4 linked regions of the Homo sapiens genome follow. The protein of the gene in region 4 purifies or fractionates together with the protein of the main gene of each other region. This does not show direct contact. Each region holds a gene or a part of one and is shown on either strand. Other genes may lie near its edges. The genes, in order: CTSF, SIL1, LRIG2 and PON2.

Region 1 (2,682 bases), on a different chromosome or scaffold from region 4:
GCAACCGGAGCCACTTCTCCCTGTACAAGAAGTTACTTCATAATGGGGGGGAGACATGAGCATGAGAGTTACACAGAACTGGGTCCAGGTCTTAATGCTGACCCAGCCAGGCGTGGTGGCTCATGCCTGTAATTCCAACACTTTGGGAGGCCAACTTGGGAAGATCACTTAAGGCCAGAAGTTCAGGACCAGGTTGGGCAACATAGCAAGACCCCATCTCTACAAAAAATTAAAGACATTAGCCAGGCATGGTGGCTTGCATCTGTAGTCTCAGCTACTTGGGGGGCTGAGGCAGGAGGATCGCTTGAGCCCAGGAGGTTGAGGCTGTAGTGAGGCATGTTTGTGCCACTGTACTCCAGCCTGGGTGAAAGACTGCTGGGATGAGCTCTTGGTGAGGAGTCAGAAGTTGGAGTTGAGTTCTGTCTCTGCCACTTTTCTTGCTGGCTACTGGTCCCTCCTCCCCATCTCTCCCAGCCTCAGATGTGTCATTTCTAGAATGAAGACATTCTTCAGAGGGGATGGCCTGTGGCCTGGGGTGGACGAGGAATGTGAAACCTCGCGTAGAGGGCTTAGTTCATTTCTGGCTGTGAATGGCAAATGGGAGCCTGCCCTTCTCTACTCACCCCCACCGTTCCCCAGGAGGGCTGGAGACAGAGGATGACTACAGCTACCAGGGTCACATGCAGTCCTGCAACTTCTCAGCAGAGAAGGCCAAGGTCTACATCAATGACTCCGTGGAGCTGAGCCAGAACGAGCAGAGTGAGTGAGGGGCAGGGTGAGGTGAGGTCAGGTGGGGCCGGGGCCTGGGTGCCTACTGATGCCACCCCTTCCCATCTCAGAGCTGGCAGCCTGGCTGGCCAAGAGAGGCCCAATCTCCGTGGCCATCAATGCCTTTGGCATGCAGGTGAGGCCCTAGCCCCACTGCCCCTGCCCCATCTCTTGTTGACCTCCCCGACCTCTTCTTGGAGTCGATCCCCTACTCCTTCTCCACCTCCAGTTTTACCGCCACGGGATCTCCCGCCCTCTCCGGCCCCTCTGCAGCCCTTGGCTCATTGACCATGCGGTGTTGCTTGTGGGCTACGGCAACCGTGAGTTCCGCTGCCTGTCCTGCATCCAGCCAGGCCACAGGCAGGGGTGGGATCACAGCATCTCAGGTCCTCTAGAGGGGAAATAGGGGGAATGCCTAGGAACCCTGTCCTTACCCACTGCCTGGGCCATGACCAGCTGGGCATCATCTGTCCTCTCTATGGCAGGGAAGCTGAGCTGTGGGAGGGTAAATATTGATGGCCTAATAACCTGCAATAGGCGGGTGGGTGCGTGCTTCCTCCCTGCCCCAGGGCTTCTCCCTGAGGCTGGTAGGTGGGCCCCTCGCTTTCTGCTCTTTTCCTAGTCCCTGTCACACAGTAGGCCCAGTGCAAGTATTTGAAGGGTGCAAAGTGATTAAGGCTCTGCCTGGAGAATTAAGGACCCTGATCCTTGCGCTCTGCACTGCACCCCAGGCTCTGACGTTCCCTTTTGGGCCATCAAGAACAGCTGGGGCACTGACTGGGGTGAGAAGGTGAGTCTTGCTGGCTTGGCCCCTGGCCCTCCAGCCGCCATCCTACCCTGGTGCCCTCACCAGCTCCCCCTCTCCCCCAGGGTTACTACTACTTGCATCGTGGGTCCGGGGCCTGTGGCGTGAACACCATGGCCAGCTCGGCGGTGGTGGACTGAAGAGGGGCCCCCAGCTCGGGACCTGGTGCTGATCAGAGTGGCTGCTGCCCCAGCCTGACATGTGTCCAGGCCCCTCCCCGGGAGGTACAGCTGGCAGAGGGAAAGGCACTGGGTACCTCAGGGTGAGCAGAGGGCACTGGGCTGGGGCACAGCCCCTGCTTCCCTGCACCCCATTCCCACCCTGAAGTTCTGCACCTGCACCTTTGTTGAATTGTGGTAGCTTAGGAGGATGTCGGGGTGAAGGGTGGTATCTTGGCAGTTGAAGCTGGGGCAAGAACTCTGGGCTTGGGTAATGAGCAGGAAGAAAATTTTCTGATCTTAAGCCCAGCTCTGTTCTGCCCCCGCTTTCCTCTGTTTGATACTATAAATTTTCTGGTTCCCTTGGATTTAGGGATAGTGTCCCTCTCCATGTCCAGGAAACTTGTAACCACCCTTTTCTAACAGCAATAAAGAGGTGTCCTTGTCCCGAGTGTGGTATAAATGCTCAGTCCCCGGGGGTGAGGAGAGATGGCAGGGACTCCTGGCGGGTCAAGGTGGGATAGCTGGTCCTGCCCAGGAGCCTGAGGGGCCAGCTTCTGCTTCAGGAACTAAAAGGAGATGGGGAGAGACCCAGAGAGGGATCTTTATTCAGAAGCACTTGGCTGGCTTTTCTCTTAGGCCCTTGCTCCGAGGGACGGATGGGATCAGCCACAGGGTGCATCCTCTCTCCATCTTGCATAGAGAACCTCAGTGGTTGGGGTCAAAGGTCGCTCTCCCCATAGAGGGCACTGGAGAAGGCCACGTAGTCCAGGGCTCCAGCCGGGGCCCCGGATCCCTTGTAGGGCACCATACGGCGGATGCAGTACTCGGCCTGCTTGGCAGGGAGCTCGCGCCGCAGCTCCTCGGGGGTGATGTAGTTCTGGGGAGAAGAGGCGTTGAGGACCCACAGGTCCCGTGCCCTGCCCTAGCCCACCAGCCCCTCCACCGCCT
Region 2 (7,039 bases), on a different chromosome or scaffold from region 4:
TAGGGTGTGGGTTATTCTACCTTAGGTCTCAGCTGTTTCATATGTGGTTTGAGGTTGAAGATGAACTTGCATTACTTCCCCTTAACTCAGTGGTTGTGACAAAAAGCCTTTCTATTCTTCCTGAATATTGGAAATCGGACTTGAATAAGCGAATCTTGGAACATCTTGAGTGTGTTTTTAGAGCTGAGGCCTATATAGGCAGACTTTGAGGGCTGTCTTCTCTGGGCATCTTAGAAAGTATTAGTATTTTTGATAGCATAGATGAGAGAAGACTGTGAGTCTTGGAGCAGCAGTTTTTTGAGGATGGGCATCCATGGTAGACCACAGACATCTTGGGCAGATGTCTCCAACCAATTTAATCACCTCTTTGCTGCTCTCCTTAGGCAAGGCAGGCTGAGGTAAAGCGGCTCTTCCGCCCCATTGAGGAACTGAAGAAAGACTTTGATGAGCTGAATGTTGTCATTGAGACTGACATGCAGATCATGGTACGGCTGATCAACAAGTTCAATAGTTCCAGCTCCAGTTTGGAAGAGAAGATTGCTGCGCTCTTTGATCTTGAATATTATGTCCATCAGGTACTGTATTTCTTCGTCCATAAGTCAGACTTTTAACAGCTCCAAAAATAAATCCCCCTTCCCTAAGCCCTAAGAAAATAGCATCAACATCTTTACTTCTCTCCCAGAGCACAGACTATTTTTAATCTAGTCTTGTTATCTTTTGTAGTAAGATACAGTCTTAGAGGCCAGAGCCAACTTCTTTTTCTTTTTTTGTCTGAGTCAGAGTCTCACTCGGTCACCCAGCCTGGAGTGCAGTGGCGCGATCTCGGCTCACTGCAACCTCCACCTCCTGGGTTCAAGCTATTCTCCTGCCTCAGCCTTCCGAGCAACAGGGATTACAGGTGTGCACCACCACGCCCAGCTAATTTTTTGTATTTTTGATAGAGATAGGGTTTCACTATGTTGGCCAGGCTGGTCTTGAACTCCTAACCTCAAGTGATCCACCCACCTTGTCCTCCCAAAGTGCTGGGATTACAGGCTTGAGCCACCATGCCTGGCCAGCCAACCTCTTTTTCATGTGGAGTGGTACCTTCTTTAGTACCTCTGAGGGTACCACAGAGATAAAATAGACATAGTCCTAGTTATGCAGCTTATAGCCTGGAAGAGGAAGTAATTGAATAATGAACAATTGAACAAATTAATTAAATAATGAGATAATTTAAGATTGTAATGAGGGCTCCAGAGGGTGATGTAAGAATATGTAACTGGAGAACTTAGAGCCTAGTCATGGACAATAAGGGAGGCTTCTCAGAGGATGTGACATTTAGGCCAAGCGTTATAGGATGATTGGGGTTGGCTGGGTGAAGAGGGGGGACTAGAGCAGGGGATGGCAAACTACTGCCCATAGGTCAAATCTGGCCCAACACCTCCTTTCCTAAATAAAATTTTATTGGGGCACAGCAACCCCTATTTGTTCATGCATTGTTTATTGCTGTTTTTATGCCACAATGGCAGAATTGAGTAGTTGTGACAGAGACCATATGGCTCACAAAGTCAAAAATATTTACTACCAGGCCCTTTAGAAAAAGTTTGCCAATCCTTAGATTAGAGCATTCCAGCTAGAGGAAACAACATGTGCAGAGATTCTAGGGCAGGGACAAGCTTGGGGAGATTGAGGGCCTGGAAAAGATTGGAGTGACTGGAGCACAGCGGCCTGGAGGGGAGCATAGATGAAGTGGGAAGGTTCGGGGGCTGGAGAGGTGAGGTTGGAGATATCATGCTCTTTATGATTTTAGCCTTGATCCTAAGAACCACTAGAGAGTTTGAAGCAGGGAAGTAACTGATCAGACTTATAATAACTAATATTTGTTGAGTGTTGTCATATACCAGGCACTGCTTCAAGTGCTCTGTATGCATTAATTCATTGACTTCCGTGGCTGCCCTATGAGTAGGTACCACTATTAATCCCATTTTATAACCGAGGAAAATGAGGCACAGAGAGATTATGTAATTGCTCAAGATCATCCAGCCTAGTGAGTGGTAGAGCTGGAATTTGCAGCAAGGTCTGTCTGACCCTAAACTCTGTGCTCTAAAACTTTTGGCCACTCTGTTTCTCAAAGGCAACTGGTACCTTTTGAATTAAGCTCAAAAGGTGGAGCTAACAAGGAGCCAATAAAAGCCATTGATTTATTCAATAAATAAATCAAGTGTCTACTAACTCCCAGGCACTGTTCCAGGCACTTGAGATACGTCTATGAACAAAATTAGGGCTTAACCTTCTAGCAGAAGCAGATAGACAAGCATAAGAAAGAAGTAATTATATGTAATATGTTTGTAGGTAATAAATACTGTAGAAAAATAGAAACTATGGCGAGATAGGAACTGGCAGCATTGAGAAGGGGCATCTCTGGCTGGAGGAAGAGCAAGTGTGGAAGCCCGGTGGTGGGAACATGCCTAGTGTGTTTGAATCAGCTGGAGCTGAGAGCAGGCAGAGAAGAAGTACATACAGCTCAGAGAGATAATGGGAGGAAGAATATAGAGGGCCTGTAGGCCATGGAAAAGAGTGAACTTGCATATTATTGAAGGATATTGAGCAGAAGAATGATGTGATCTGACTTACTTTTAAAAGGATTCCTCCAGCTACTGTGTTGAGAATTAGACTGCAGGTGGGGGGCTTGGTAGAAGCAGAGACCAGATAGGAGGCTATTGCAGTAATCCAGACTAGGGGCAACAGTGGCCCAGGAGGCTGTGTAATCATAATCAAAGGCTTGTTTGAGATCCTTGTCAAGACACAGATCCTCAATGTCCTCCCATGCACCATGCACGACAGTGCCCTTGTTCTCTGTAAACTGGGCTAAAAGACATGCTTTCTTCCTTTAGGATTTTGCCAGCATCTGTGGTGAAAGAGGATGAGTATGCACTGTATCCATAGGAATTATGGGGCAGCCTCTTCATCTTCTTTCTCTGCTCATAACTCTTTCTCAGGCCTCAAATAGCAGGACTCTGATCCTCTTAGAGAAAAAAAATGAACCTCGGTTCTCTTTCCCCTTTCCAGTCTTACTCTCCAGGGTAAAAACCAAGAACTCCAACAGCTTTTCCATTAGAGATATTTAAAGGATTAAGGATATAAGGGGTTATTTGCCAACTCAGTCCTCCTTTGATGTTGACAGCTTCTATTTTTTCTCATCTTAACATATTTGGATGAATCTTTAGGTATCAGGTCACCATGGGCTCTTGCACATGAAACACCAAAATGACTGGAGAGCTTATCATACCTGGAAGGGTGTGAGTCCACAGGAGGCTTGGGCTAGCATTGCCCCAACAAAGTTCTTTGTTTTCCCTTGTAGGCTCTTTGTCACTTGGCAGTGTCTTCCCTAAGGTGACATCCCCATTCTGCTTTCACAGGCCACCTCACCAGACCCATCCTGAGGTCATCCCAAAATCAGTCCCTGGCAGAAGCCAAATTTGTCTGTTGGCAGAGAAATGTTCTGGATCATTGGTGTTTTGACTGGAAGGGCTGGTGCATCAGGCTGCCATGCAGCAATGTTAAGCTGTGATTTCACTGGGGGATTAAGTAAGACACAACTCGGCCCGAGTCCCAGTTGTGATGGGGGCTTGGGGTGATGTAGTACTAGTTTTAAGGAAGATGGCACTTTCCTAGCCAGGAACTTCCCCAGTCCTTTCTCATTCCAGACTCACTGAATGGTGGTTTGAGGAGCTGTAGGCTCCAAGGACCCAAACCAGGTCTGCCAGGCTTCCTCACAGCCATATTTGAATTATTAAACAGGATATGTGAAAAGCAAAACCTTGTGTGTGGAAACAGATGGTGAGTTATTTATGAGGAGCGGCCTCCGTCCGCCCCATCTACCTCGGGCAGTACATTTGCCTTCTCCCACGTGTCTCCTCAGCTGTGTGCCACCATTTTTCCCCTTCGCTGTTTCCCATTCTCTCATTGTCTTATCAGTGCCCTGCTTCTTTCCTTTCCTCCAGGGTGTTGGCATAGTTCCCTCCTGCACTCCCTCCTCCTCTTCCTCTCTGCCTGTCCCACCCCACCCCGAAGGCAGCCTGAGAACAGTTTTGGCCCCAGACCGAGATGGGGAGCTGTGGACCTGGGCTATGGTCATGGTTTCTCCTGTATGTCACCAGGGGGGGGCCCAGCTTTTGATGTGCACTGGGCAGAATGAATCGTTTCTTCCTCACTGTTAGTGAAGTAAACCATGAGAAAACATCCCAAAAAGGCTGAAGTGCTTATATAAATGTCTGCATTTCTATCATGCTGAATTATCATTGTAGTAATAGTAGATAAACTGACTCTAGAACAGAAGGTCCATGATTCTGGGCTGTGTTGCTTTGGAGCTGACCGAGTGGCAGCTGCTCTGCTAGGAACTCATACCAGCTTTATAAGTGGCCATTCCAGGCGTGGTATGACAGGATTCTGAGCCATAGTTTTGTATCCAGAAAACCCAGAGGAAGGACAACCAAAGAATAGGTAGTGAATTCTTACATTGTAAAATTAGAGCATGTAGGGAAGGAAGGAAGGTGCTTATGTCAGCAAAGCACCCAACCCTGAGTCTCCCTAGTTAGCTGGGCTGTGGCTCAACCAGTTATTCCTCTTCATAAGAACAGTTTGGGGCAGAAAAATGTCCATGGCCTGGGGCCACATGGCAGAGCAGACTTCATGCTTACTTCACAACCTGGTTTAGCCATTACTTCATGTCTGCGGTACCAGAGGCCCATTCATTTTGTTGGCACAGATACCCCAGATTGCCTTTTTATTCACACTGGAGCTTTATTTCAGGAACATTCTTTTCTGATCAAATTCATACTCATTAATGCAACAGTTATTCATTGAACACCTAACCATATGCTCAGCACCATCCTAGTCCCTGGAGCTACAAGCGTGGACAGACAGACAAAACCCCTGCTGTCATGGAGATTCCATCCAAATGTGTATGAATATGATTTTTCAAGTGGCAACAACAGGCTAGGCCACCACAAAACACTAGCACAGTCAAATACCAATCCTCACACTTGATTTCTCTGTCAGAGTCCTCTCCTAGTTCAGAGAGGCAAGGATGCAGTTGGGAAGGGGCCCTGTGGAATCTGGAGGAGAAAGATGGGTAGCAGCCACAGTTGTTGGGCTTCAGCTTCCTGAGTTTTCCTCATGATTGATAGCGTGGGATTAGCATATGGGCAAGATGCAGCCTTTGTGGCAACAAAGATATATTCGAGGGAGACTGTAGCGGGTACATGTAGAAAACAGGATCCAGTGACCTTTCTGAGGAAAGCGAGTTGTCTTGTTCCAGGGTACTAATAAACTGTGGGTAATGAGATCCGCTATAGAGTAAAAGAGAGAATCCGGACTTGGGGATTTGGAGCTTAAATGATAGCCTAGACCAATGCTGTTGAATAGAACTTTATGTAATGATAGAAATGTTCTGCACTGTCTGATACATAGCCACTAGCCAGTAGCACAGGCTTAGACAGAAACCTTTGGGAGAGCGATTTTCTTGCATATTTTATCATGAATGTCTTCAGATGCAGTCAACCTGAGATGCAAGAGAAAGGTACTATTGTTATTCCCCCCTCCCCAGCACTCTTACGGCAACCCCCCTCCCAATAACAGGGCTCCTTTTATAGTCCCTAGCTTCTAATTTAAAATCAGCTTTAAAAATCTGCCTCCACTGTCCCCATTGGGATTGGACATCAGCAGGAAGCATGGCACCATTTAGTGGTGCTGATGACGCCAGATTCTTTGTGTTAACAGCTTGTACATTAGGAGCAAGCTTTGTGACTCATTATGATATTAGAATTTTCCAGGACATGTTTGGCATAAGCAATAGCTAGGTGTCATTTCTGCTGATTCCCACGCAGGTGCTCATCAATCGTGTTAGATGAATTAGGAGTTCTCAAATTTAAGAGTATTAAAAAATTGGTTTTTACAAACCTTTTCTTAGTCAAAAAGGCCATTATTGATTTTTCCATGGCTTTTTAATTTGTTTTTGGGTAGTCACCAAAAGAAAGGCTCTAAGAACAGCTTTCCTGTCCCTGATGGCTATGCTGTACTAAGCAGTGGCTCTGTTGCAGATGGACAATGCGCAGGACCTGCTTTCCTTTGGTGGTCTTCAAGTGGTGATCAATGGGCTGAACAGCACAGAGCCCCTCGTGAAGGAGTATGCTGCGTTTGTGCTGGGCGCTGCCTTTTCCAGGTGAGCAGTATAATGGACGTCCCAATGGCCAGAATTGCTTGGCCTGATCTGCTTGGAAGAAGGGTACACTTGAATGTGCCTGTTGCTACTGACATTTCAGTGTCATCTCAATGAAACTAGAGTAAAATTTGATTCTGCCCTTATTCCAAGTAGATAGGAATTTTTACCCATGTTGTCACCATCTGTGACTCTCTGTTCCCCCATCTTATGTGTATGGACATTTAATAACACATCTTAGGTCACATTCTCTGTTTTATTCAAAGCTTGTAAAAAGTTAGACCAACTATAAATAGTAGAGAGGGAGGGGAATAAACAAGAGTAGGTCTTTTGGCAGTAAAGCTACATCTAGTGACGAATAAATGATGAGCCTGACCAAGGGGGTGCTTTCAGGGAGGAATGTGTCTTGCCCTAGTTGTCTGGAACCAATGTACATGCCGTCAGATTATCGCCCTCTCTAGGTTGGAAATTGTTGAGAATTTCAGTTAGTCTGGCTTGTGATGGAAGACTGATAAGGCAAGAGGAGTGGGGAGGTAGCATCTCGAAAGAGTAGATGCCAAAAGATATGTAGGCACCACATCATTCTACACCACCTGCAAAGGTCAAGATATCTGCATGCTGCAATTGGTCCATTGGAGCTATTGTTCCTCCCATTTTTGAAAATCTGCTCTTAGGACCATTTGTGCCTTTAAAACAGGAACAAATATTCTGATTCTTGCTGCAAGGGCATGGGTGGAGGCTATTAGATGCTTAGATGCAGGTCACGATGTTACAGGAGAAAAGCTATTCTGAACATATTTACCATTATAGGCTTTGTTTCGAGAAGATTTCCTTTGT
Region 3 (7,039 bases), on a different chromosome or scaffold from region 4:
AATGGAATGACCTAAGATGTATTATTGAGTGAAAAAAGCAAGGGGCAAAATGTGTAAATTGTTGTGTCATTTCTGTAAAAATTTGCTGTACATGCATAAAATATCCAGAAGTCTGCACAATAAATGGCATATTTTCATTTGTTGTTACTGGGAAGGGGAATTGGGTGGCTGGAAACAAAAGTGGGAGACTTTTTACACTTTTTGATAATTGGACCATGTGAATATATTCCCAAACTCAGAAGCTACACACACATATATAAATACACACACGTAAAGTAAAATAGCTATTTTGAAATTCAGATACATTTTTATTCATCCTTTATAAACATTCTTGTCTATACTACTCAAATTGACATTTAAGAGGACTTTTTTTTTTTATTAAAAAAATTTTTTTGGCTGGGTGTGGTGTCTCACGCCTGTATACCCAGCATTTTGAGAGGCTGAGATGGGCAGATCACGAGGTCAGGAGATCGAGACCATCCTGGCTAACATGGTGAAACCCCGTCTCTACTAAAAATACAAAAAAATTAGCCGGGCGTGGTGGCGGGCGCCTGTAGTCCCAGCTACTAGGGAGGCTGAGGCAGGAGAATGGCGTGAACCCGGGAGGCGGAGCTTGCAGTGAGCCGAGATTGCGCCACTGTACTCCAGCCTGGGCGACAGAGCGAGACTCCGTCTCAAAAAGAAAACAAAAAAATTTTTTTTTTTTTTGAGACAGAATCTTGCTCTGTCACCTACGCTGGAGTACAGTGACGTGAACTTGGCTCACTGCAACCTCTGCCTCCCGGGTTCAAGTAATTCTCCTGCCTCAGCCTCCTGAGTAGCTGGGATTACAGGCGTGTGCCACCACACCTGGATGATATTTGTATTTTTAGTAGAGATGGGGTTTCACCAGGTGATTCTTGAACTCCTGACCTCAGGTGATCTGCCACACCTGGCAAATATTTGTATTTTTAGTAGAGATGGTGTTTGCCAGGTGAGTCTTGAACTTCTGACCTCAGGTGATCTGCCTGCCTCAGCCTCCCCAAGTGCCAGGATTACAGGCATGAGCCACTGTACCTGGCCAAGAGGACTTTTTGTATTTCTATTTAGTTTCTTTTTTTTTCTTTAGGTCTACTTTCCAGGACTAAACTAAGAATGATATTTTGTCCTCTTTCAGGGATTTCAGTCATAATCGGTTGTCTAACTGGAACATCAGCTTGGAATCACAAACATTACAGGAAGTGTAAGTTATTTTTATTTATTTAAAGTTATGTTAAATTCCTGAGGGAACTTAATAAATTGTGATTTGTGGGATGTTTAATCCAGAGATGCCATAAAAAAATTGAAGGAAAAAATTAGTTAAAAGAAATTATTTGAAAACCTAAAATGTTTTCTTTGGCTTTGTTATTATCAGACTGTCTTGGCATTGGGTTGGTGATTTCAAGTTGCAGGCTGTGGGGGAAATATTCTACCTTCCTGGGGCTAAAAGTAAGATTTACGCCTCTTCAGAGTAAATGTGTTTTGATTTTGGCCAAGTTTTCAGCCAGTGAAACTCTGTTGTATAACCTTTTTAAATGTCTTGACATGTTATCTAAGATTGGGAGCATCATGTCTAAAGTAGATTTATATGAAATAGAGTATTCTTGATATCATATGAGAATGTAATGATTGATAGAATTAAGTTTTTCTCTTAACTAAAGTTTTTCCTTTAATACTGAGATGTATTATGTAATTTTGGAGGGAGTTTTCTAAGATATTATTAATATTAGTTTTTGCATTGTTACATTCCTAGAGGCACAACCGTTAAGGTATATAGGCCTATTTGCCTCTACAATTAACACCATCAGAACCCTGAGATTTACTTTCCTTTTTAATTCTTTGCTAACAGGGATAACTTCTTCATGCTCATTGTCTCTGCATTCTCTCCTCCTGGCCCCAGATTCACTGCTTCTAATACGTTGTGGATGAGTACACAGTTGACAAGTTTGTTAGCTGAAAGAGTAGGCACTGAGGAAAGGCCTGAAAATGCTTCAGTGGGAAGTGCATGAGCTTTATTGCATGGACTTTGTAACTTTGGTTGGTTTCCTGAAGGTCTTTACTTCTGGTTTCTTTTCTGTGTTCTAGATTGTTGAGGTTGTTCAGTGACTAAAAACCAGGTTAATGAAATGTGATTGTATTAGATTTGCTACTAAAACATTTGAGACAAACTGTTTAAAGGGCTGCTGGGATCAGATGCAACATGTTATGTTATCTGTAAAATTAGTCATAGGTTCCATCTCTGGGTGGGCTGATAAATTTCATCTGTGGTCTCAAGTAACACTCTCTAACATTTGTATAGCTTTAGAAAAAATATATATACATTTGTGTGTTGTGTGTTTATATATATTTAGAGAAAGAGAGATCTGGATGGACTGATTATGCCTTCTTTAAGGACTCAAATTAGCTGCCATAAACCCAACTTATTCAAAGAACTTTGCTTGAACTAACAATATTTAATGTGCAAAATACTTCATAACCTTTCTGATATTAATATCAATAGTAGATCAACACTATGAAAATACATTTCTTGGCCAGGCATGGTGGCTTACGCCGGTAATCCCAGTACTTTGGGAGGCCAAGGTGGGCAGATCACCTGAGGTCAGGAGTTTGAGATCAGCTTGGCCAACATGGTGAAACCTGTCTCTACTAAAAATACAAAATTAGCCGGGCGTGGTGGTGCATGCCTGTAATCCCAGATACTCAGGAGACTGAGGTAGGAGAATCACTTGAACCCAGGAGGCAGAGGTTGCAGTGAGCCAAGATTGCACCATTGCACTCCAGCCTGGGCAAAAAGAATGAAACTCTGTTTCAAAAAAAAAAGAAAAAAAAAAGAAAGAAAATACATTTCTCATTAAAACCTCTAATTTCTCAATAAATACATTTTTATTTTCGTCTAACTCATTCTGAGTCATATTCTTTTTCAAATTTGGCACCTATTCTAAAGAATATGTGTTAGCCAGAAGGTAGAATCCAAGAGGTAATATTTCCCTCACTAAACATTTAAATCTGTTTTTCCTCTTGCCTAGGAAAATGAATTACAATGAACTAACAGAAATCCCGTATTTTGGAGAACCTACATCTAATATTACTCTACTTTCATTGTAAGTTAGTAAGTTTTCAGGTTTTTTACTTAAATTATGAAAAGTATACATTTTTTTTTTAAAGCACATATATTGTTGATTCTAATTAACATTTTTGTGGCCTGGGGTGGATCAGTGGCAGCAGCTTCATTATAATCTTTGTTTTACAGAGTCCATAATATAATCCCAGAAATAAATGCACAGGCACTCCAGTTTTACCCTGCTCTGGAGAGTTTAGACCTCAGCTCAAATATAATATCAGAAATCAAGACATCTTCATTTCCTCGCATGCAGCTTAAATACCTGTAAGTAACACAGATTAAATTAGATTTACTTTAAAGCACATGTTTATGGGGACTGTTGTGGGGTGGGGGGAGGGGGCAGGGATAGCACTGGGAGATATACCTAATGCTAGATGACGAGTTAGTGGGTGCAGCGCACCAGCATGGCACATGTATACATATGTAACTAACCTGCACATTGTGCACATGTACCCTAAAACTTAAAGTATAATAATAATAAATAAATAAAAATAAAATAAAATAAAGCACATGTTTATTATTCATCAGTACCTATCCAAAAATATTTGGTTATTTATTGTGCTTTTTATATGCATATGTGAGACAAACCTAGAGTTGGTGTGTTGGGTGGTTGGCTTTGCCACTCACCCCACAAGCCCCCTAAAGAAAGATCGCACTATTGTCAGAAAATATTGGTAGATATCAAGGGTAATTTTGAGATTCAATTTTGTTTGTTTTTTTTTGAACCAAGCTTTCTAAAAGGTAAATAGAGATTTGTTAAACAATGGCTTACTGTATATAATGATAATTAGCATGTGTGCCAGTGTTTTCCAGTTTACAAAGCATATTCACACATGCTGTTTTGTAACAACCTAAATGAAGTAGGTAGCTTCTTAATTTTGTAGATGAAGAAACAGAGCAGTTAAATGATTTATAAAGTTGTGGATGGGCATTAAGTGATAGAGCTGGGGGCTTAGACATAGATTTTTGGCAGCTTTCTAGTGGTAGAATTTTTATTTTACTAAATTTTTTCTTTTGCTATTATCTTGTTTATTTTAGGAATTTAAGTAATAACAGAATAACCACCTTGGAGGCTGGTTGCTTCGATAATTTATCAAGTTCCTTATTAGTGGTAAAGTTAAACCGTAACCGAATGAGCATGATTCCACCTAAGATCTTCAAGCTGCCTCACCTCCAATTCTTGTGAGTAACGAAATAGACGGATTATAAGAAGATAGTTTTTTCTTACAGGGTCTTTTTCTTTTTAATTTAATTACTGTTAGAACATTTTAGCAAACCAATTTCCTGACTGTAAAACTATTTTTGTTAAAGGGAACTTAAAAGAAACAGAATTAAAATTGTGGAAGGTCTTACATTCCAAGGGCTTGACTCCTTAAGATCTTTGAAAATGCAGCGGAATGGAATTAGCAAACTTAAGGATGGAGCATTTTTTGGCTTGAATAACATGGAAGAACTGTAAGTACTCGGGACTAGAGGTGATTATTAGGAAAGTAGTCTGTTTGGGACTTTTCAGTGTCGAATGGCTAGGGTAGTTGTTCTGATTATAGAGATACATTCATTCATTCCCTGGTCACTGATGTGAAGTAAGCGTACATAAAACCTTTAAAGTTTTGTTAGCTAACTGATCAATTTTGAAATAATTCTTACAAACTTCTCATCTAAAAAGTTTATATATATATATATATTTTTTTTGAGATGGAGTCTCACTCTGTTGCCCAGGCTGGAGTGCAATGGCGTGATCTCAGCTCCTGCAACCTCTGCCTCCAGGTTCAAGTGACTCTCCTGTCTCAGCCTTCTGAGTAGCTGGGATTACAGGCGTGTGCCACCAGGCCCGGCTGATTTTTGTATTTTTAGTAGAGATGGGGTTTCACCATGTTGGTCAGGCTGATCTCGAACTCCTGACCTCATGATCCACCCACCTTGGCCTCCCAAAGTGCTGTGATTACAGGCATGAGCCACCGTGCCCGGCCAAAAAGTTTATATTCTTAATGTTTTGGCTAATGAAAATTACCAGAATTTATCCAAACAGGTATACTATACCACTTGGCCTGTTGGTTTTGTAGAGCTCCTATTTTAGACAGTCTTACTACCTTCTAGCACTAAATCTCTTTTTTTGTTGTCGTTGTTGAGATAGAGTCTTGCTCTGTTGCCAGGCTGGAGTGCAGTGGCACAGTCTCGGCTCACTGCAACCTCTGCCTCATGGGTTCAAGCGATTCTCCTGCCTCAGCCTCCCGAGTAGCTGGGACTACAGGCGCGCGCCACCGTGCCCAGTTAATTTTTGTATTTTTAGTAGAGATGGGGTTTTACCATGTTGGTCAGGGTGGTCTTGATCTTTTGACCTTGTGATCCGCCCACCTCGGCCTCCCAAAGTGCTGGGATTACAGGCATGAGCCACTGTGCCCGGCCAAGCACTAAATCTTAAATAAGATATTCATTTTTATTGAATAGAATTGGTCAGCTCAGTTGGGTTGAACAAAGGTATATGCTTCTCTGGGAAAAACTTAAGATTTAAAGCTAGTTATTGAACTGCCTTGTTTTGGAACGTATTTTCTTCTCTTTCTCTAATTCTGCAGAGAACTGGAACACAACAACCTTACACGAGTAAACAAGGGGTGGTTGTATGGCTTGCGAATGTTACAGCAGCTCTATGTGAGCCAGAATGCTATTGAAAGAATCAGCCCTGATGCATGGGAGTTCTGCCAAAGACTATCCGAACTGTAAGTGTTGGATAGCATTTCACTGGAGGCAGTTAAGACTAGAGCAGATTGGAATAAATCATTCCCATGGGCAGTAATGAGATGTAACATCCCTCTTTACTAGAAATTTGTAGAAAGCTCTAAATTTACCATGTAGATATAATAAGAATTGTAAGTTGAACCAAATACAATGAATTCCTTACCTTCCACATTTCTTGTTTTCAGTGATTTGTCCTATAACCAGCTGACCCGCCTGGATGAATCTGCCTTTGTGGGTCTGAGCTTATTGGAGAGATTGAATTTAGGAGACAACAGAGTCACTCATATTGCTGATGGTGTATTTAGATTTCTTTCCAATCTTCAGACATTGTAAGTATATCCATTCTCCTTTTTGGTTGTTGTTACTGATTTTTTTAGTACAATAAAGCAAATTAATTAAAACAACTAATCAGTCTGCAAATTCTGTATGCTAACATTTTGTGGTTCTTCTGTCCTATGCCTCAGAGCAAGGCAGTCTTATTTGTCTCCATCCCCATAAAAATCCCAAGCCTGTCGTAGGCAATTCAGTTTGTAGTTTAATTCTGAGTTAATCCCATAAGCATCAAAGCATGTCTTATTGTGTTAGTTGCTGTGGAATAAAACACAGTTGCTAGTGTCAGGAGAGCAGTCATTTTCTTGTTCCTTTGACTTTGACAATACACCAGAGCTACTAGTTCTCATTCGAAAGGATGCAGGTTGTGTAGTGGGAACTGCCGTGGTAGGAGACCAGTTCACTGTTACTGGTTTGCTACATGACTTTGGACAGAAGAAACTAATACTTATTATCTGATATGTGCCAGGTACTTTCAAATACTAGGATGATACTGCTGTTTTCCATATTAGGAGGCTGAGGTTCAGAGAAATTTAAATAATTTTCTCTAAGTCACATAGCTTGTAAATGTTGGGCCAGAATCAGATCCCAGGTCTGTTTGATGCTAAAGCTCATGTCCATTTTATCATACCAACAGAAGAACAAAATCACTTAGCTTTTCCTGGCCATCATTTTTTTTTCTCCTTTATACGGTGAAGGAAGGATATAGGATTAGATGGTTGCTAAAGGCAGTTTCCACGCTAAAATTCTGTGGTTCTGTAAGTTATTCAATTTACAGAATATAAGAATGTGTTTTTGTGAACTTTATATATTTATATATAAATATATCTAATT
Region 4 (7,094 bases):
TAATCACGAGTCACCTATTTCACAAATTACTGTGAGCGTTACAATTAAGAATACACTGCAAAGAACTTTAAAGAGTTAAAAGTACAATTATGAAAGGCAGTGTGCTCCAGGGACCATTTCAGTCTGTGAACTCTTTGTTTCTGGTCCATGGCTAGTTAAGTATAAAAAATTGAAAGTAAGCATTTAGAAACTGTTACAGAAATTTGACAAAGTAATTTTATGTCTGTTGAACCAAATAATAAAAGATTTGGGCTTGTATTTTGTATGTCTGGTTTTTTTACTTCCTCTTCCAGTAAGTCATTTTCATTGCATTTTACAAAGGCCAAGAAAAACCTGTCCTTCACTGCACATAGTTTGAGAAGCACTGATAAAAGGTATTATTATTTCTGAAATTTTGCTTAAAAAACCACTTAATAACCACTAAATAAGTCAGAAGTCATTATTTGAGAAATACTGTTTCATACCAAGTATAAGGAGTTGCCAGCACACAAGCAAGTTCCAGAACAAGTTTGTTTTGTATTGAGTAACTTGGTTATTTGGTAGTCAGAAACCACTTTCCCCAGGAAACAAACGTAAACCAGGGGTTATGTTCTTGGTGTGGCCTATACATCCTAGTTATCTCAAAAGACAGCTAAACTATACTATACAATGTAACAACCACTATAACATTCTTACAATGGTTTCTGATTTCCAAATTAGAAAATACGTCTCATCTCCATCCCCATGTGAGGAATGACAATTCCAGCCCTAGCATGGTGGTGGGGCTGGGGGTAAAGATGGATACTACTTCTGCAAAAGTTGCTTCAACCGCAACATTCAGAAAGAGAAAGAATATGGGGGTAGAAGATTCCTCACACAGATTATTGGGGGAACTCACTGGTCATGTTAATAAAGTTAAAATAAGGTTTCCATTTCTCTTGATTCTCTGAGGGTGAGCTTAGGTAGGTTTTGGTGGACTTGAAAGTCCTGGCTCATTATCACAAATGCTTCCATGCTAAATCCCAAGGTGTTGTTCCTCCTGACCACCCAGCACCAAGATGGCAAACAGGTTTCATCCTGAACTGAAATCTGTTCCCTAGCTCAGGGATTCTTATTTCCCTTTCGTTGTTGTTTTAAAAAATTGTGAGGACAAGTCTGGGTGTGATGAGACACTTTGCCAAAATCAATTAGTGACGCCTACCATGGGCCAGGGAAGAAAGGAAAGTCAGCACAAAAGCTGGTTTTGGTTGTTGTTGTTGTTTTTGCTATCCTGAGACTAGCCTAAAAGATGTAGACCTCCAACCCTTTAATGTCACCTGGAACCAGGTTGAAGAACATGACTATTAAGAACATGACTTTTTTCTTTTTAAAAAATTGGGAATAGCAAAAGGGAAATAGACAGAGAATAGCATATACTTGGATATTCTTATTTGCCATCTATGTGGTTTCCTCATTTTGCGGAACTTGTGGAAAGACACGGTAGCCTGGCTCCTGACCCAGAATCCATGAGGCATAGTTGTATGTACTTCCCTTGGGGCCTAAGAGATTAAGAGAGAAGCCCAGACAATAGTCCAAGGCCCTCTGCTTTAGGTCTTTCTTCTAAATTCTGATTCTTTAATTTTTTTTTTTTGTTAATTTTAATTTTTTTTTTGTAGAGATGGGTTCTCCCTATGTTGCCCACAATGGTCTTGAACTCCCCGCTTCAAGTGATCCTCCCACCTGGGCCTTTCAAAGTGCTGAGATTATAGGCAAGAGCTACCTTGCCAGGCCTAAATTCTGATTTTGTATCTGAGGCTCTTCTCTTCCTCAATAATTGACACCAAAAATAGTCCTAGAAAGGAGATTCCACCCTTCTCTAAACAGTCATAGCCTTAGCCTATGTCAGAGTTCTTAACCCAGTGGTCCATTGATAGTTCAGAGGAATTAATGACCTTGGATAAGAAAAAAAAAATCTTGATTTCAAATGGAATTTAGCATTTTCTTCAATTACAAAACTAGCAGACAAACCTCAGAAGCATTTGCAGTACTTGTGACTGTTACTAATGGAAATAACAGTTATTTTCATTATTTCATTATAGTTGTTTTCAGTATCATGAAAGAACATTTGCACTCCTCTTTATTTAAAAGAATGTTGCTAGATCTTGTTATTTAATATGTTAAATAATGTTGCACACATTACATTACCACATTACTATAGCAAAAAATTATGTTTTAGATATTTTAACAATTACATTTCAATTGTTGACCTTTAATTTTAAAGCTAAGGCAAAATTAATGTAAGTAGAGAGTTTATTTGGGCCAAGTTTGAGTACTGCAACCCAGGAGTATAGATTCAAGTTTCCCTAAATATACACTCTGATTAGCAGCAGTTACACATAGATTTTTAAGGGGAAGGAAGAGGCAGTTCCTAAATTCCTTGCGTTAAAATAACATAAGCTGTGGATTGGTTATACTTTGTTCTTTGTATCATAAATTCCAGGAATATGAAGATAATGGGTGGGACAGCTACTCGGGAACAAAATGTCTTTAAACAACTGTCCCCAGGCATGGGTATTGGGGCGTGACTGAAGTCCCATACTCATGTCGCTCTGGGCCTGATAAATTTTGCATACCTCACAAAGCTCAGACTGCTCTCAGCTATTTTTTTTCCTTACAATGTAATTGATTTTCTTTGCAATCTATACATTTTATTCATTTATTTAAAATTTTTTTTTCTTCTTTCTTTTTTTCATGAACCGCACAGAGAAAATTTATGCATTTTATTGTAAGCATTTATAAACATTATTCTAAGAAGTTATCCACAGGCTCACCACTGCCAGAAGGGTCCACGACACAAAAAAGGTAATGCCTCATGGGCTTTCAAAGGACAACTTTTTACTTCTCTTTCTACCATCCAGTATAATCCAATATCCTTAGGACTGAAGCAGAGATACACACACACACAGGGAGAGAGGTGTTTGTGCTTTTTTTTTTTTTTTTTTTTTTTGGTGAGAGGCAGGTGGGAAATTGGCATCCACTTTTATTTACTGGTTCTTTATAAAACTGATATTTGTTGAAAATTGTCAAGTGTGACCATTTCTGCCTACATATTGTAGGGTGGCAATTAAATACCGAAAACCATTAGAAGCTTATTTCAGATGTACTCATTTATTGTAATGGTATCAATCTTGATGGGTAAATTTCATTTTACTTTTAAAATTGTATTTTAAATTATTCCTTCATGTTACGGTTGTTAGAGTAAAAACGGAAAAGAAAAAAACTACACTTCTTCCCTTTGAGTTTGGATGAAAAAGACGTGTCTAAGTCCTTAAGTCTGTAGTCTGGAAGTATTAATAGAGGCTGGGCATGGTGGCTCATTCCTGTAATTCTAGCACTTTGGGAGGCTGAGGCAGGAGGATGGCTTGAGTCCAGGAGTTTGAGACCAACCTGGGCAACACAGCAAGACTCGGTCTCCACACACACACACACAGACACACACACAACTTACACACACTTAGCTAGGTGTAACGGTACGTGCCTGCGGTCCCAGCTACTCAGGAGGCTGAGGCTGGAGGGTCCCTTGAGTCCGGGAGGTCCAGACTGCAGTGAGCTATGATTGTGCCAATGTACTCCAGCCTAGGCAACACAGCGAGACCCTGTTAAAAAAAAAAAAAAAAAGTATTACGAGGCACAGGATGTTTATTTATTCGCAACTACGTCCTGTTATAAAAAGTAGTGATTCCAACGTGAAATATTTACACGACGCATCCCGTTACTTTCCCTCCCTTGGCCACCGACCCCCATCCCCAAAAGCTGCTTTCTATGTAAGTTTCTCACTGGAATAGCGAGTGAGAAATGTGTTTGAAGACTAGGGAAACGAGAAAGGTATGCGGGCTGCTAGAGGGTTTCGGGTGGGTTGTTTGAAAAAGGAAGTGAAGGAATTCAAAGTTTCACATCATGAGCCTAATGTAAGGCGTGTCCGGGCCGTCCCGAAGGTATCTGGGGAAATAGGTTTGTGAGGACAAAGACCAGGGCCAGGCCCAGGGCGGAGCCTCCGCGGCCCCGACGCAGGGACTCGGCCTAGGCGGAGGACGGGGCGGAGCGCGGCCGGCACCATCGAGCCGGGAAGATGGCACCGCCCACGGAGCTGCTGGCCAGGCCGGAGCGAGGCAGCGCGCCCGGCTCCCGCGCCATGGGGCGGCTGGTGGCTGTGGGCTTGCTGGGGATCGCGCTGGCGCTCCTGGGCGAGAGGCTTCTGGCACTCAGGTAGGTGGGACTCCCGCGCGCCCCTCCTCGGCGGTCCCCAGGCTCGGGGTGGCCGCGTGGTGCGGGGAGGGCGCAGGCTGGGGGAGGGATTCCTGCGGGACCTGGCCCTGCGGCCGGGGGTGGAGAATTTTTGAATGCTGTCCCTCCCCCAGCTAGTTGAACCCCCATCACCCCGACTCTCCGCTTCTAGTGAAAAAACTAGCAAAGTTTGGAGTGAATCGCGACACTTTCTTGAAAGTTTATAAGCCCTTGCTGCTAACAAAGTTCTCTTCTGCTTAGGCTGACAAGAGAATGCTTTGCAATTACCCAAGGGCCAAACTAGTGGTTTAAATTGAAAACAAAATGACTACTCATGCATTGAAACCTTAACTATGAAGATTTATTTCAGGTCATTGGTGCTGTTTCTCCTTGTTGCCCAAACCAGACCCGTCTTTAATAAAGTTGTTCTCCACCCATTTCTGCATAGTTTGAGAAACTCTTCAGCTGTAGATCAAAGACACTTGAAATATTCAGCTACTGTTCTTACTTCCTATTTATTCACCAGGGAAGCCTGAAGCCAGAATGCCAGACAGCGCAGACACTATTCCATCTCGCATTTTAGTTTTAATGAAAATCTCTGGTAGGTAGACATCATCGTTTATAAATTACCAACTCAACGTTTGTTTTTTGTTTATTTTATTTTTTGTAGAGATGGGGTCTTGCTGTATTGCCCAGGCTGTTCCCTAACTCTTGCACTCAAGCAATCCTCCAGCCTAGGCCTCCCCACAGTGCTGGGATTACAGGTGTGAGCTGTTCTGCCCTGCCTCAACCAAAATTTTATAGGCCTCATGCAAAAGAGTTCCAGAAAGACTGAGCACCTGCTATGTGTAATGTTCTCTCTTAGGCTTCTATAGTAGAGTACGACCCTTATGGAGTTTGATACAGGGGAAGAGAGAATTAAAATACAGTAAATGTATAAATTAGGATGTTCTAAGGACAGACACAAATGAACCGCATAGGCTTAAAGAGGAAAGATTCCATCCCCTGAGGGTGGAGTTCTAGAGGGAGGAAGAGACATTCGACCTGACCTTGAAGGGTGGGTGCAACACATATGAGCATGAAGGGGCCCATGCCAAATGTATAGTGCAGCAGGAGCAAAGGGGCTAAGGTGGGAAGTTGGAAGACTAGCAAATGGGCCAATTTGAAGGGAGCATAAAGTCAGGAGATGAGAATAGTAGGGTGGTGGGAAGGATAGGTTTTGAGGCCATTAAATATAAGTTGAAAAATGGGGCCCCACTTTCATAGGCCCAATAGTGCTTCAAAAGGGAAATATTGGTGGGTTTTGCTTTTCAACAAGAACTTAATATAACTAGTTGTGTTTTATAGAGATAAGCCTGGAAGGGGGGATTGGAGGAGAGCAATGGTTCTCTGTACATTAGAATCTCCTGGAGGGCTGGTGTCTGAGTGGCACCACCAAAGATTCTGATTCAGCTGTTCTGGATCAGAATCTACAGCTCACACCTGTAATCCCAGCACTGTTGGAGGCCTAAGCCAGAAGATTGCTTGAGCCCAGGAGTTAGTGACAGGCCTGGGCAACATAGCAAGATCCCACCTCTACAAAATGAATAAATAAATAAATAAATAAATAAAAAACAAAATTTGAGTTGGTAATTTATAAACTATGGTGTCTACCTACCAGAGATTTTTCGTTATAATTAAAATGTGATATGGAATAATGTATTGTTTGGCAAGCTGGCTTCAGGGTTCCCAGGTAAATAGATAAATAAGGAAGTGCATAATGTAAGAACAGTGGCTGACAGTAGCAGTGGCATTTTTTATTTTTAAAAACATTCCTGATAATTCTAATGAGCAGTCAAGGTCGAGAACTACTAGAATAGAGAGCAGACATGGGGTAACTGGTTAAGGTATTGCAGTAGGTCAGAGAGGATAACAGGGACCCAAACTCTGGAACCCCAGGGATGAGGGAGAAGTCAAAGGTGCTACCAGAGTTTGTGCCACAGCTCCACTGTCCCATGGTTGTAGTTTCATCTACTGATAAAGCAGTGCAAAGAGGAAGCGTGTGGTGGCTGAGATGGGAGTGAGATTTGAGGAAAGAACGCTTATGGGTAGGAAATGGACATGTTGACCTTAATTTTCATGTTAGGTAATGCCCATTGTGCTCTACAGAACATTCATGAGTTGGATGACTTTGTATATGATCTGTCCTGCTCTCCATTTCAAAGGCAAGACCACCAAAATTCACAAGCTTATTATGTTGTCACTAATGTGTAAGCCACCAGTTTTTCTGCAAGTTGGAAGTTTTCTCAACAGTCAAATATTCCCCCTTCTCACTAATCTTAAGGTTTTAAAGTTATAGCTGCAAATCTAAAAAAAAAAGAAAAAGTAAATAAAACTTATTGACAGAATGCCTGATAGTTTATTTACAGGTTTTTGTTTGTTTGTTTTTTGTTTTTCTTTGTTTTTTATTTTGACACAAGGTCTTGCTCTGCCGCCCAAGCCAGAGTACAGTGGTACATCAAAGCTCACTGCAATCTCAAACACCTAGGCACAAGCAGTCCTCCCTCCTCAGCCTCCTGAGTAGCTGGGACTACAGATGCATGCTACCATGCCCAGCTAGTATTTTTATTTCTTGCAGAGACAGGGTCTCACTTTGTTGCCCAGGCTAATCTCAAACTCCCAGCCTCAAGTGATGCTCCTGCCTCAGCCTCCCAAAGTGGTAGGATTATACACATGAGCCACCACCCTCGGCCTACTTTACAATTTGATGCACCTTTTCTTTACGTGACTGTGATGCACTTTAATGGGCAGTGACTTTATAAAATGGTAACTTTATTGGATATGTGGAGCCCCAAATGGGCTGACGTGAGAAT

The links.
Region 1: the proteins of PON2 (region 4) and CTSF purify together in Homo sapiens (affinity purification with mass spectrometry; 3 studies listed by BioGRID and IntAct, with this or other methods). This does not show direct contact.
Region 2: the proteins of PON2 (region 4) and SIL1 purify together in Homo sapiens (affinity purification with mass spectrometry; 3 studies listed by BioGRID and IntAct, with this or other methods). This does not show direct contact.
Region 3: the proteins of PON2 (region 4) and LRIG2 purify together in Homo sapiens (affinity purification with mass spectrometry; 3 studies listed by BioGRID and IntAct, with this or other methods). This does not show direct contact.

What each region holds. Positions count from the first base shown.
Region 1 is NC_000011.10:66,562,964-66,565,645, reverse strand, and holds the end of CTSF (cathepsin F precursor), read left to right. Parts: intron 1-639; coding exon 640-759; intron 760-839; coding exon 840-904; intron 905-997; coding exon 998-1,088; intron 1,089-1,499; coding exon 1,500-1,558; intron 1,559-1,638; coding exon 1,639-1,713; 3' UTR 1,714-2,182; downstream 2,183-2,682. Other genes in the region: ACTN3 (alpha-actinin-3), read right to left, coding at 2,453-2,611. UniProt on the Homo sapiens protein: Thiol protease which is believed to participate in intracellular degradation and turnover of proteins. Has also been implicated in tumor invasion and metastasis.
Region 2 is NC_000005.10:139,020,337-139,027,375, reverse strand, and holds part of SIL1 (nucleotide exchange factor SIL1 precursor), read left to right. Parts: intron 1-383; coding exon 384-575; intron 576-6,083; coding exon 6,084-6,205; intron 6,206-7,039.
Region 3 is NC_000001.11:113,090,162-113,097,200, forward strand, and holds part of LRIG2 (leucine-rich repeats and immunoglobulin-like domains protein 2 isoform 1 precursor), read left to right. Parts: intron 1-1,156; coding exon 1,157-1,222; intron 1,223-1,867; exon of another isoform or gene 1,868-1,979; intron 1,980-3,044; coding exon 3,045-3,119; intron 3,120-3,268; coding exon 3,269-3,403; intron 3,404-4,177; coding exon 4,178-4,321; intron 4,322-4,450; coding exon 4,451-4,594; intron 4,595-5,712; coding exon 5,713-5,856; intron 5,857-6,060; coding exon 6,061-6,204; intron 6,205-7,039.
Region 4 is NC_000007.14:95,432,008-95,439,101, reverse strand, and holds the start of PON2 (serum paraoxonase/arylesterase 2), read left to right. Parts: upstream 1-4,073; 5' UTR 4,074-4,150; coding exon 4,151-4,224; intron 4,225-7,094. UniProt on the Homo sapiens protein: Capable of hydrolyzing lactones and a number of aromatic carboxylic acid esters. Has antioxidant activity. Is not associated with high density lipoprotein.